Linked DNA regions of Homo sapiens: region 2 is linked to region 1. Evidence: fine-mapped expression QTL. A gene starts in region 1. The other region holds a variant in brackets. All regions are shown on one strand. Distances are from middle to middle.

What was found. PIP is the estimated chance that this variant, and not a neighbour inherited with it, causes the effect.
Region 2: its variant is the best candidate, but not a certain one, in a credible set for the expression of TAF1D in whole blood (TOPMed, PIP 0.56).

The regions. Positions count from the first base shown.
Region 1 is chr11:93,739,133-93,744,515 of GRCh38, reverse strand. It overlaps TAF1D (TATA-box binding protein associated factor, RNA polymerase I subunit D), which reads left to right and starts at 3,021. Exons shown (of 6, transcript NM_024116.4): 1 at 3,021-3,194; 2 at 5,185-5,279. The coding sequence starts at 5,212. It overlaps C11orf54 (chromosome 11 open reading frame 54), which reads right to left and starts at 2,844. Exons shown (of 9, transcript NM_001286069.2): 1 at 2,788-2,844. RefSeq lists enhancers at 1,092-1,631, 2,152-2,271, 2,038-2,723, 2,852-3,361.
Region 2 is chr11:93,701,498-93,706,880 of GRCh38, reverse strand. CEP295 (centrosomal protein 295) reads right to left here. Exons shown (of 30, transcript NM_033395.2): 16 at 4,244-4,421; 17 at 3,962-4,105; 18 at 1-136. Among named protein-coding and RNA genes, the nearest start is that of SNORA25, 26 kb to the left of the region's middle. The variant G/C (reference allele first, on the strand shown) is at 2,037.

The sequences.
Region 1 (5,383 bases):
ATGAACATGTCAAAATCTGCACAATGAATAGTATATTCATTTATAATGATAAAAACACTTTACATATTTTTGCTGGCAGTAGGAATAAGAACACAAGTTAAAATCCAAATGTAATCTTAATTTTATTCCCTTTATTATCTCTTTAGTAAAAAGTTAGGTCAGTTGTTTCCGTTTATTTATGTCCCTACCAAAGTAGAAACAAAGTCCAATCTTGGGAGGATGTAGCTTGAATAACTGGTTTAGAAATGTACTTATTAGGGGTACTTATTAGGGATTAGTGGATAAGTGCTTAAATGGTTGTGGATAACAGTGCATATAGGACTCTCAAGTATTTCTATAACAGACACTTGTGCGTTCTACTCTATATTTGACATTTAGACAAAAAAATCAAATGAGTTCCTTAGACTATCACTTTTTCATAATAAAATTTAAATTATGAAGGCCCGTCCAATTCTAAAATGATGTGAACTTCAGGCAGGCTGATGGCACAGCAGGCAGTGTGGTAGCATGTGTATGTGAGTGTTTATGTGTGTGTTGGAGGTGGGGAGAGGGTTACAGTTGGAGCTGAGAAAGGAGTTAGGTTCTCACATAAACTCCAGGAATACAGCCTTGGGCCAGATGGAGGCAAACAGTATTTTCCTGCCTAATTGGTGGGAGTCGATGGCCCAGAAATAGGGTCTAGAAGGGAAACGGAGCTGCAGAGGTTAACACCTGGAGGGGTAGACCAACTATCGCAACTAAACTGGTTACCATTTGAGTGCACACTATATACCAGACACCGTTAGACACTGTGCAGACGTTCTCTCAAAACTTTTCACAACCATGACAGGTTGTAAGACAGGCTGTGGGTCTTCAGGGGTCGCGGGCATCCCCTAGACACAGCCGCAGGGCCTGCATGGAGTTCGCTCCTACCGGCGACCAAAAGCGCTCGCTCCGGCTCCAGCATCTGCTCACCCCCACGCACCCTCCCATAAAGGGTGGAGCGCAGCAGGCCTGGGTGACTGGAGTTCGTGGCTTCCAGCACTCCAGTTCCCGCCTCATTCACTCGCGCCCCCCCTCCCGCGAGGAGTTGAGAGCCGTGGGCTAAGTAAGTGAGGCACCGCAGCCGCAAGACCCACGAAGGGGTCAGAGGAATATCCTGCTTCAACTGCACTCCAGCCTGGGTGGCAGAGCAAGACCCTGTCTCTATAACACAAACAGAGAAATACCAAATGTGGCCGGGCGCGGTGATTCACGCCTGTACTCCCAGCACTTTGGGAGGCCGAGGCAGACGGATCACTTGAGGTCAAGAGTTCGAGACCTGCCTGGCCAACATGGTGAAACCTGGTCTCTACTAAAAGTACAAAAATTAGCCGGTTGTGGTGGCGGGCGCGTGTAGTCCCAGCTACTTGGGAAGCTGAGGTGGGTGGATCTCTTGAGCCCGGGAGGTGGGGGTTGCAGTGAGCTGAGATCGGGCCACACTGCACTCCAGCCTGGGCGACAGAGCGAGACTCTGTTTCTAAAAAAAAAAAGAAAAAAGAAAAAATACAAAATGAAATGTGAAATTTCAATGATTCTGCATTAGGAGTTAAATGTTCCTTCCCTTTAATAGCACTTTTCCCCTTCTTTTTGAACAAGGGACGCTGCATTTTCATTTTGCATTGAGCCTCACAAATTACACAGCTAGGCTTGCTGCTGAATACGGCAGTGAGGGACATGCCATACCAGTCCTGGAGCTTCGTCATTGCCCAGACCCTGTGGATCAAATGCAGTGGGCTGCCTAAAGGATCGGACTTTTTATCCCCGGAATTGTCCAAACTATGGAGCAAAGCAGGTAAAGAGACCAGATTACTTTTAAGGCCCGTTCAATCCTAAAATGTGAACTATAAAATAAGACTAGACAGCTTTACTGATTTTTGTGGTTTATCATATGAAAACAGAATTTTGAAAGCGGAAAAATCAAACCAGTTCATTCCTTTTTAAAATTACTTTGGGAGGCCGAGGCGGGAGGATCACCTGAGGTCGGGAGTTTGAGACCAGCCTGACCAACATGGAGAAACCCCCGCCTCTACTAAAAATGCAAAAATTAGCTGGGCATGGTGGCGCACGCCTGTAATCTCAGCTACTGGGGAGACTGAGGCAGGAGAATCGCTTGAACCCGGGAAGCAGATGTTGCGGTGAGCCAAGATCGCACCGTTGCACTCCAGCCTGGGCAACAAGAGCGAAACTCGGTCTCAAAAAAAAAAAAATTACTTTGGGAGAAAAAAACCCCACCAAAACTAAACTAGTTTACACTGTTTAATCTTAACTCAGGAACCGGTCAAGGAACTAATGGTGTGGGGCAGGGGGGATGTAGGAGGAAACTTAGGAAAAACAAATCCTCCACAGGTCTCACTTGTGACATGTTAGCCAACTCCTGGGAGGCAGAAAGGGTGAGCTTACGAAACAGGTGCAAAAGTGGGGAGGAGACCTGGGCGTGCTATGGAATAACACTGGCGTCCAGCACAAAGGTTACACACTTCGAGTCATGGTCAAAGAATGAGCCTTCTCCAATATTTTAACACACAAGGGTTTCTGAAGGCAGAAATAGACAAAGGATTACAAAACACTCAGGCACACATCCCACCCGTCACCCTCGCCACACACCCGGGACCAGATTTAGAAAGCCAGGCGACAGCTCAGCAAACGCGAGACCACCGGAAACGAACCGGGCTGAGAGGCTGTTTCCTCACAGTTCTCATCCACTCACAAGTGACCGCACGTTTTGTTTTTGTTATTTGCCGAAATGTTCTTGGCTATTCCACTCACCTAAACGGTCACGGTAGCAAAACACCCAGAGTCCGGATCTTCGCCTAGGCCAACCCCGCCTCCTCAGAATACGCGAGCTAGAGCTCCGCCCACGTTAGTCAGTCCTCCCTGCGCGGCGAGAAAAATGGCGCCCCCACGTCGCGTCTCCTCCCACCGCTCGCCTTCTTCCCGGAAGCTAAGTTGTATCGCGAGATTTCGGCCTGACTATTACTTGGGCCACGGAAATAGCCAACCCTTTTCTTCCGCACGGTTGGAGGAGGTCGGCTGGTTATCGGGAGTTGGAGGGCTGAGGTCGGGAGGGTGGTGTGTACAGAGCTCTAGGACACCAGGCCAGTCGCGGGTTTTGGGCCGAGGCCTGGGTTACAAGCAGCAAGTGCGCGGTTGGGGCCACTGCGAGGCCGTTTTAGGTAGGTTGCTAAGAGGGCGAGGCCGTCCGGGCCTGGCGGGCGGGGGAGGCGTTGCATATCTGGGGTTTCCCGGGGCCCCTTCGTTGGTCCGGAGGATCGAGACTCCGAAGTCGGTCCGAGAGGGTGAAGGGATCACGGCCGCAGGCCACTCCGCGCCACGCGGCTGGTATGAGTCCCACACAAACGTGGTTGTAGTGTGGACGGGCTTCATTATATCTTGAGATGGAGGTGTTAAATCGTGTTGCGGACAAGTTTAACCTTATTACGTGATTTAAATGATTTAACCTTCGTATGTGAGGTACCCATTACTCGCGCCGGTTTTCTGCAGGTTAGGCGCTGCCGGGTGAGAGGCGCTGGTGGTCACAGCGTTAGCTCCGGGTAAAGCGCCGCTCTCTGCCCACGTGGCCTCTAAGAATTGCAGAATCCCCACGGAGGCATCGACACCCAAGTAGGAGTGTCTTCTAAACACTTCGAAAAAGTGATTATTGAGCTAGCTTTATTTTGATAATCCCTACTTTTAAAAAAAATTAACTACAGGTATACCGTTAAAGCATGGGGGCAAATTTTTGTTGAATTCCGTTTTTGAGCATTCGATATTTAATGACTTTGTAGAATCTTGTACTTAAAAAAACTAGTAAGACCTTGTACCAGGAAAATACCACAGGGGGCATTTAACAAATCTGAGCTCTTGGTGACCTTATCGTTTCATATTTTAAATATTTTGCTAGTTCATCCTAGGATTTATATGTAATGACTCATGTCAGGTCCCAAGAAGCTACAGAATGAGACAAGAGATTGACTAAGGCATGTACAATAATGAAATAAGTAGTTATCTTTAATTTTTGTTGCCATGCCTTTTTTTTTTTTTTTTTTTTTTTTTTTTTTTTTCCTGAGACAGGGTCTTGCTCTGTCGTCCAGGCTGGAGTGCAGTGGTGCAATCTCGGCTAACAGCAACCTCCACCGCGGCTTAAGCGATCCTCCCGAGTGGCTGGGAGCAAAGGCACGGGCCAACACACCTAGCCAGTATTTTAAGAATTTTTTGTAGAGACAAGGGTCTCCTTGTGTTGCTGAGGCTCACTACATACAAGCTCCACCTCCCAGGCTCAGGTATTCCACCTACCCCAGCCTCCTGACCACAGGCGCGCGCCACTATTCTGGCTAATTTCCGTATTTTTTGTAGAGACGGAGTTTCACCACGTTGCCCAGGTTGGTCTTGAGCTCCTGGGCTCAAGCGATCCGCCCGCCTCGACCTCCCAAAGTGCTGTGTTACACAGGCCTGAGCCACCCAGACCAACCTGTTTTTCTTTTTTCTTTTAGCTCACAAGAAGGAATCTTTTTCTTTTTTTTTTTTTTTTTTTTTGGTATGTTGTATACTCTCTACCATGGGGATGAAGACACAAGAATTATGATAGTTCATTGAAAAAGGTTGAGAATTCAGAACTTGTCAGTTTCCACCAATAATGGCAAAGATACAATATGACAAAGTTCAGTTGCTTAAATGAATCTAGGAATGAAGAATCTAGGAATTATAATGGAGAGGTGATTAGGAGTTTAAAATGGTTTATTGATTGGAGATCCTTTTCCTGGTTTATATAGGGCACACTTTGCTTTAGGAATTCCCCCTTTGATCTTGGAAAACGGCTTTTAATTGTACATTAATACTGTATTGGTAATTGTACGTTAAAATATGTGGCTAATGATAAAACTACATTTTTTACTTATATTGAAAGATGCTTTTGTTGGAAGGGACGGTACTTTTTTGGAATCTTGTTGCGTTGAATACATTTAGAGGGTAACAACTGAAAGAACCTGTGAATAGAATTTCTGGATTTCTTTTTAAAGAAACTGATCTGAAATGGATAAGAAGCTTAACCTTGGTAAATGATTTCGCCTGAAATCATTGGCATAGTCTGACCACGTTCAACACTGTAGTAGATACTGTCAATATTTAGGGAAGCTTTGTCATATTTACTAAATTTCATAATTTCAGAAAACTGTTTAAAACAAAGAGCAATTGATGGATAAATCAGGAATAGATTCTCTTGACCATGTGACATCTGATGCTGTGGAACTTGCAAATCGAAGGTGAGTGGATTCAATCATGTTTATTGTATCTGAATTATGAGAAACTATTGTATATAATGAGTGACAGTAAAGATAATTTTCAGGAATTGGGAAAGAAGGAAAAC
Region 2 (5,383 bases), 38 kb after region 1:
TCACCACAGACATTCTCTTGGCCAACCAGTTGAAGACAACTAAACGGATCATGGGCCAGTGGGCTCCCAAAGAAACTTTGTTCTCGGCTTATTGAGACTCGCAGGGGGTCTCTGTCTTCATAAATACCTGGTTTACCTGGGGGGGAAAAAATATTTCCACTTCAATTTCTGGAACTATTAATAGCTAGAACTAAAGTGCCAATTTATATTATGGGTAGAAATCTAAGCTCTTAAAGACTTACTGTATATAGCAATAATTCCTTACCTTTCACAGTCAAGCTTTTATATTATTTGTATTCAATTTTACTAAGCTTTTAATGATGCTGCTACCTCACCACATCAGATTATGCCTCAGTATTGACTAATCACAAAGAAAATTCGTGGAGAATTTACCAGCCATTATAACATGCATTCATAATTTATATATAAAGTTCAAAAATAACCACAACTAATTTGTGGTATAGGAATCAAGATATGGTTTAGAAGACAGGGGATGATAACTGGGAAGGTAAAAGAGAAGTGTTTACTGGGTTCTCTAATGTTCCACTTCTTGACCTGGTGGTGTTTACATGAAACAAACATGATTTGTGCACCTCTTTGAAGGTTATATTTTGATAAAGCATCGCCCCAAAAATTGGGAATTAAGGGCGCTAGGCACTACTACAAAAGGAATACATGCAGCAGGAAACTAAAAACAGAACATTTAAGACTATGCACTTGGAAGAGTTATCCCTCTCCTGAGATCCCTGTCCATCAACATCATCCCCAGAGGAAACTAAAGGTTTATTCTCTGGAGAAAACGAATCTGATACACTCTGGGGTCCAGGGGATCAGGCACAGAAAGCAGGCAAGAGTGGAAGGGGGTGACAGAATGCCATAAGGAAATCAGAGGGTGTTAAAGTCTGCATCCTCAATCCAGATCTCCTAGGTCTGGCTCAATAATATCAACAGCCAGGCTTATATCAAGCTTAAAAGGTATTTCTTTGAAGAAACTAAACTTCTCTCAAGGAATGGAACTACAGATACTAAGGTGAGCGTCCTCACTACAAAGCCATACTTTTTCCAATAAAGTCCAACAGCACATATAGCCCCTCACCCCAAGAGAACCTCCAATTGGCCTTTTAGCATCCCGTTCAAATATGAAGACATTAGAGGAAAGGTTCTAAAGTATAAGACAGAGACAACAAAAAAATGAAAGAACTAAAAAATGTAAAAACCCAAACCAAAAAATCCACTGTAAATATTTAAAGTAGACAACATTCTGCATCCATGAAACAATAGCAGGATGCTATAAAAAAAGAAAATAATCAGAGAAAAAGAGTAACCTTTTAGAAACTACAATTTGATCATCAAAAGTTCAAAAGAAAAGTCAGAACACAAAATTAAGAAAATTAGCCCACAAAACAAAACCCAAAGAAAAAGAAAGAGAAGAAAAAATGGAAAGATCAATATAGATCAGTATTTCTCAACCTTATTTTTATCATCCCTTAAGGAGTCTTTTTAGACTTTTCCTTTTTAAACTGCCTCTACCCCCGTTCAGTTTTAATAACCACAAATATACTGTATATCTATTTATGCATATTTGTGCTTTGTACATATAAATAGTAAAAGTTTTTTTTCACCTCCCCAAGAACCAATTTTTATCCCTCTGGGGGAAAAAACACCCTTGTTAAGAATGCATAGCACGGCCCATACAACTTCCAACTAAAAGGTGTTCCACAAAAAGAGAAAATAGTACAAACTACATTATATTGAGAGGTATTTAACTGAAGTAGTAGAGAGTGGAAAGACAGACACTCTAAAAACTTTAAGCAAATTAAATAAATAAGACAATTTACTACATGAAAAAAAGTTTAGAAAAATAAAATATAATAACATAATATACTAATGGACTCCGCAGCAAAAAAGGTCTATGTATCACCATAATGACAATTTAGCTTAATTTTTGCTTAAACCCACTGCAACTATGGAAGTAAATACAAGAAGAAATACTTAAAATACTTGAAAAGTAACTGCCTCTAGTGAGTGGTATTAAA[G/C]GGTGTGTAGGGGCAGGAAGAACTGCTGTTTTATGTTATACCTTTCAGCGCTATTTCCCTTTTTAAATTACTTGCATGTAATATGATGATAGAAGTATTACCCTAAGAAGTATGGTAAAGGCTATGATGAGACCAAGACTTCATGAGAAGGAAATCTGAATAAGTTTACCAAACCAATGACACTTACTAAGTCTTGAAGGGAGGAAGAGAAAGATCATGAGGGCCTGGTAGTTCACCTACCAGGGGTTTTGGTAGGGATTTTAGTTCACCTACCTAGGGGTCTTGACTTATTTAGACTTACTCCTAGACTTAAAAGAAACCACTGCAGTCTCAACCCCCTGGGCTCAAGTGAGCCTCCTACCTCAGCCTCCCAAGTAGCTGAACACTACAGGCAAGCGCCACCAGAGGGGGTTTCCCTGCATTACACCAGGCTGGTCTCGATCCTCCCATCTCAGCCTCCCAAAGTGCTGGGATTACAGGTGTGAGTCATTGCACCTGGCATACCTCCCTTAATTCTTTCAAATGCTCAGAAACACAGGTACAATATTTTATAGCTGAAGATCAAACAGCTAATATTAACATTACAGCTTTTTTTTCAACTACTATACTAATGGGGATACAACTTCTAAGTACCTTTCTATTGACAAAGCTAATGTTCCCCTTTAAAAAATAATTTATTTTGATAAATTTGATCGAGAAAATTATTTAGTGAATCTGAATTCTAAAAAAAATTATGAAATTCACATAAGACTATTTATTAAGAATTACAGAGATGGGGCCGGGCGCAGTGGCTCAAGATTATAATCCCAGCACTTTGGGAGGCCGAGGCGGGCGGATCACAAGGTCAGGAGATGGAGACCATCCTGGCAAACACGGTGAAATCCCGTCTCTACTAAAAATATAAAAAAATTAGCTGGGCTTGGTGGCGGGTGCCTCTAGTTCCAGCTCCTCGGGAGGCTGAGGCAGGAGAATGGCGTGAACCTGGGAGGCGGAGCTTGCAGTGAGCCGAGATTGCGCCACTGCACTCCAGCCTGGGCGACAGAGCGAGACTCTGTCTCAAAAAAAAAAAAAAAAAAAGAATTACAGGGATGAGTGTTTTATTATTTTTTTCTGACACCTGGATGTAGAAAGTAGTACAGTGAATAAATATATCTAATTGACCACAAAGCCAGGATTTAAGCATAATAATCCTATAAAAATATAAGAAAAGAACAGAACAGTGAAGGTAGGAAAGTAGAAAGTGACAAAGGAAAAGAGAAAAAAAAAAAACCTGAGTGTATCCTAAAAGAAACACATTTAGAAGGCAGACATGAAAGGAAACGGGGAGCAAGACTGTCAGAAGATGGAAAACCAAAAAATTTTTGCCTACAATAAGTTGTTTTCCCCATATACAAGATAAAGAAACTACATAGTCATAGTTATTACCAATGCCACATTTCCTTAAGTCCAAATTTTAAATACTGTTTAAATAAGCCATTTTTTCCTTTTCATGAAAGTCAGTCTAGGTTTCTTTTTTTTTTTTCCATCTCCTTTTTCTGCTATAAGTTTAACAAAAAACATTTAGCACTCTGAAAAAATGTAGACCAGGTGCGGTAGCTCACGCCTGTAATCCTAGCACGTCGGGAGGCTGAAGCAGGCAGATCACCTGAGGTCAGCAGTTCAAGACCGGCCTGGCCAATATGGTGAAACCCTGTCTCTACTAAAAATACAAAAATTAGCTGGGTGTGGTGGCGGGCGCCTGTAATCCCAGCTACTCGGGAGGCTGAGGCAGGAGATTTGCTTGAACCCAGAAGGCAGAGGTTTCAGTGAGCTGAGATCACACCATTGCATTCCAGCCTGGGCAACAGAGCAAGGCTCCATCTAAAAAAAAAGTAGAAAACTGGCAAATTATTTAAAAATCTTGTTTTATCAAAGCATCTATTTACCTAGTATAGAAGTTCTGCCAATTGCTGGTGACTCTACTTCTTGTATAGCACTAAGTTCATGCTGGTTTAAGTCCAAACCACATTTGACTTTTGCTACAGGTGGCTTTGAGGATCTTCTCCCCAGATCTTTCTCCAGATGCTCACCTATTAAGTCAATGACAAAGTTGGATACAATACAAAATCTATTAACATACTTCTAACTTTTCTTCAACTAGCAAGCTACAGGGGACGAAAACAAGGAATAATCAGTGAAATAATTACAATCAAACACAATTATCTTACCACTTTGCTTGGCACTAGTATCTTCTGAAGCCAAATGATTATCATCAGAGTTGTTCCTATCTGCATGCCTAATATTTTCTTGATCATTTCCTGCTAGGTCTTGTGTATTAGGAAACCAGTCTCTGAGCTGCCCCATCTTCTGGGTTTTTAAATCATTTTCAACTGTGGGCTTACTTATCTGAAAAAGTGGAGATGAGGGTGGGGAAGCACAAGTTGGGGGATCATGTGAAGCATTATTCATTAGATTTATATCTCCCTTCTTAAATTAGAACGTAAACCAAATAAATAGTTCCATCAATCACAAAATTTTATCTATATATAAAAAATAAGATATGCTTCTAATGCCAAAAGGATATTTCCATTGAAAATACAACCATTCGGCCAGGCGCGGTGGCTCACGCCTGCAATCCCAGCACTTTGGGAAGCCAAGGTGGGCAGGACACCTGAAGTCAGGAGTTCAAGACCAGCCTGGCCAACATGGTGAAATCCCGTCTCTACTAAAAATACAAAAATTGGCTGGGCGTGATTGTGCATGCCTGTAATCCTGGCTACTTAGGAGGCTGAGGCAGGAGAATCACTTGAACCTGGAAGGCAGAGGTTGCAGTGAGCCAAGATCGTGCCACTGCACTCCAGCCTGCAGCCTGGGCAGCAGAGCAAGATTTCGTCTCAAACAACAACAACAACAACAACAAAAACAACAACCATTCACAGCCTTGGACTTAAAAACTTAGCCTACAGCCAGGTGCAGTGGCTCACGCCTGTAATCCTAGCACTTTGGGAGGCCGAGTTGGGCAGATCATGATGTCAGGAGATTGAAACCAGCCTGGGCAACATGGCAAAACCCTGTCTCTACAAAAAATACAAAAGTTAGCTGGGCATGGTGGTGCATGCCTGTAATCCCAGCTACCCGGGAGGCTGAGGCAGGAGAATCGCTTGAACCAGGGAATCAGAGGTTGCAGTGAGCCAAGATGACGTCACGGCACTCCAGCCTGGTGACAGAGCAAGACTCCGTCTCAAAAACAAACAAACAAACAAACAAAAAACAAACAAAAAAAAACTTAGCCTCCATTTCATCTTTCCATAAGAGATTATATTTGAGTATTTCCCTCTGCTTTTCTTTTGCCATTACTTTTCCTTTAA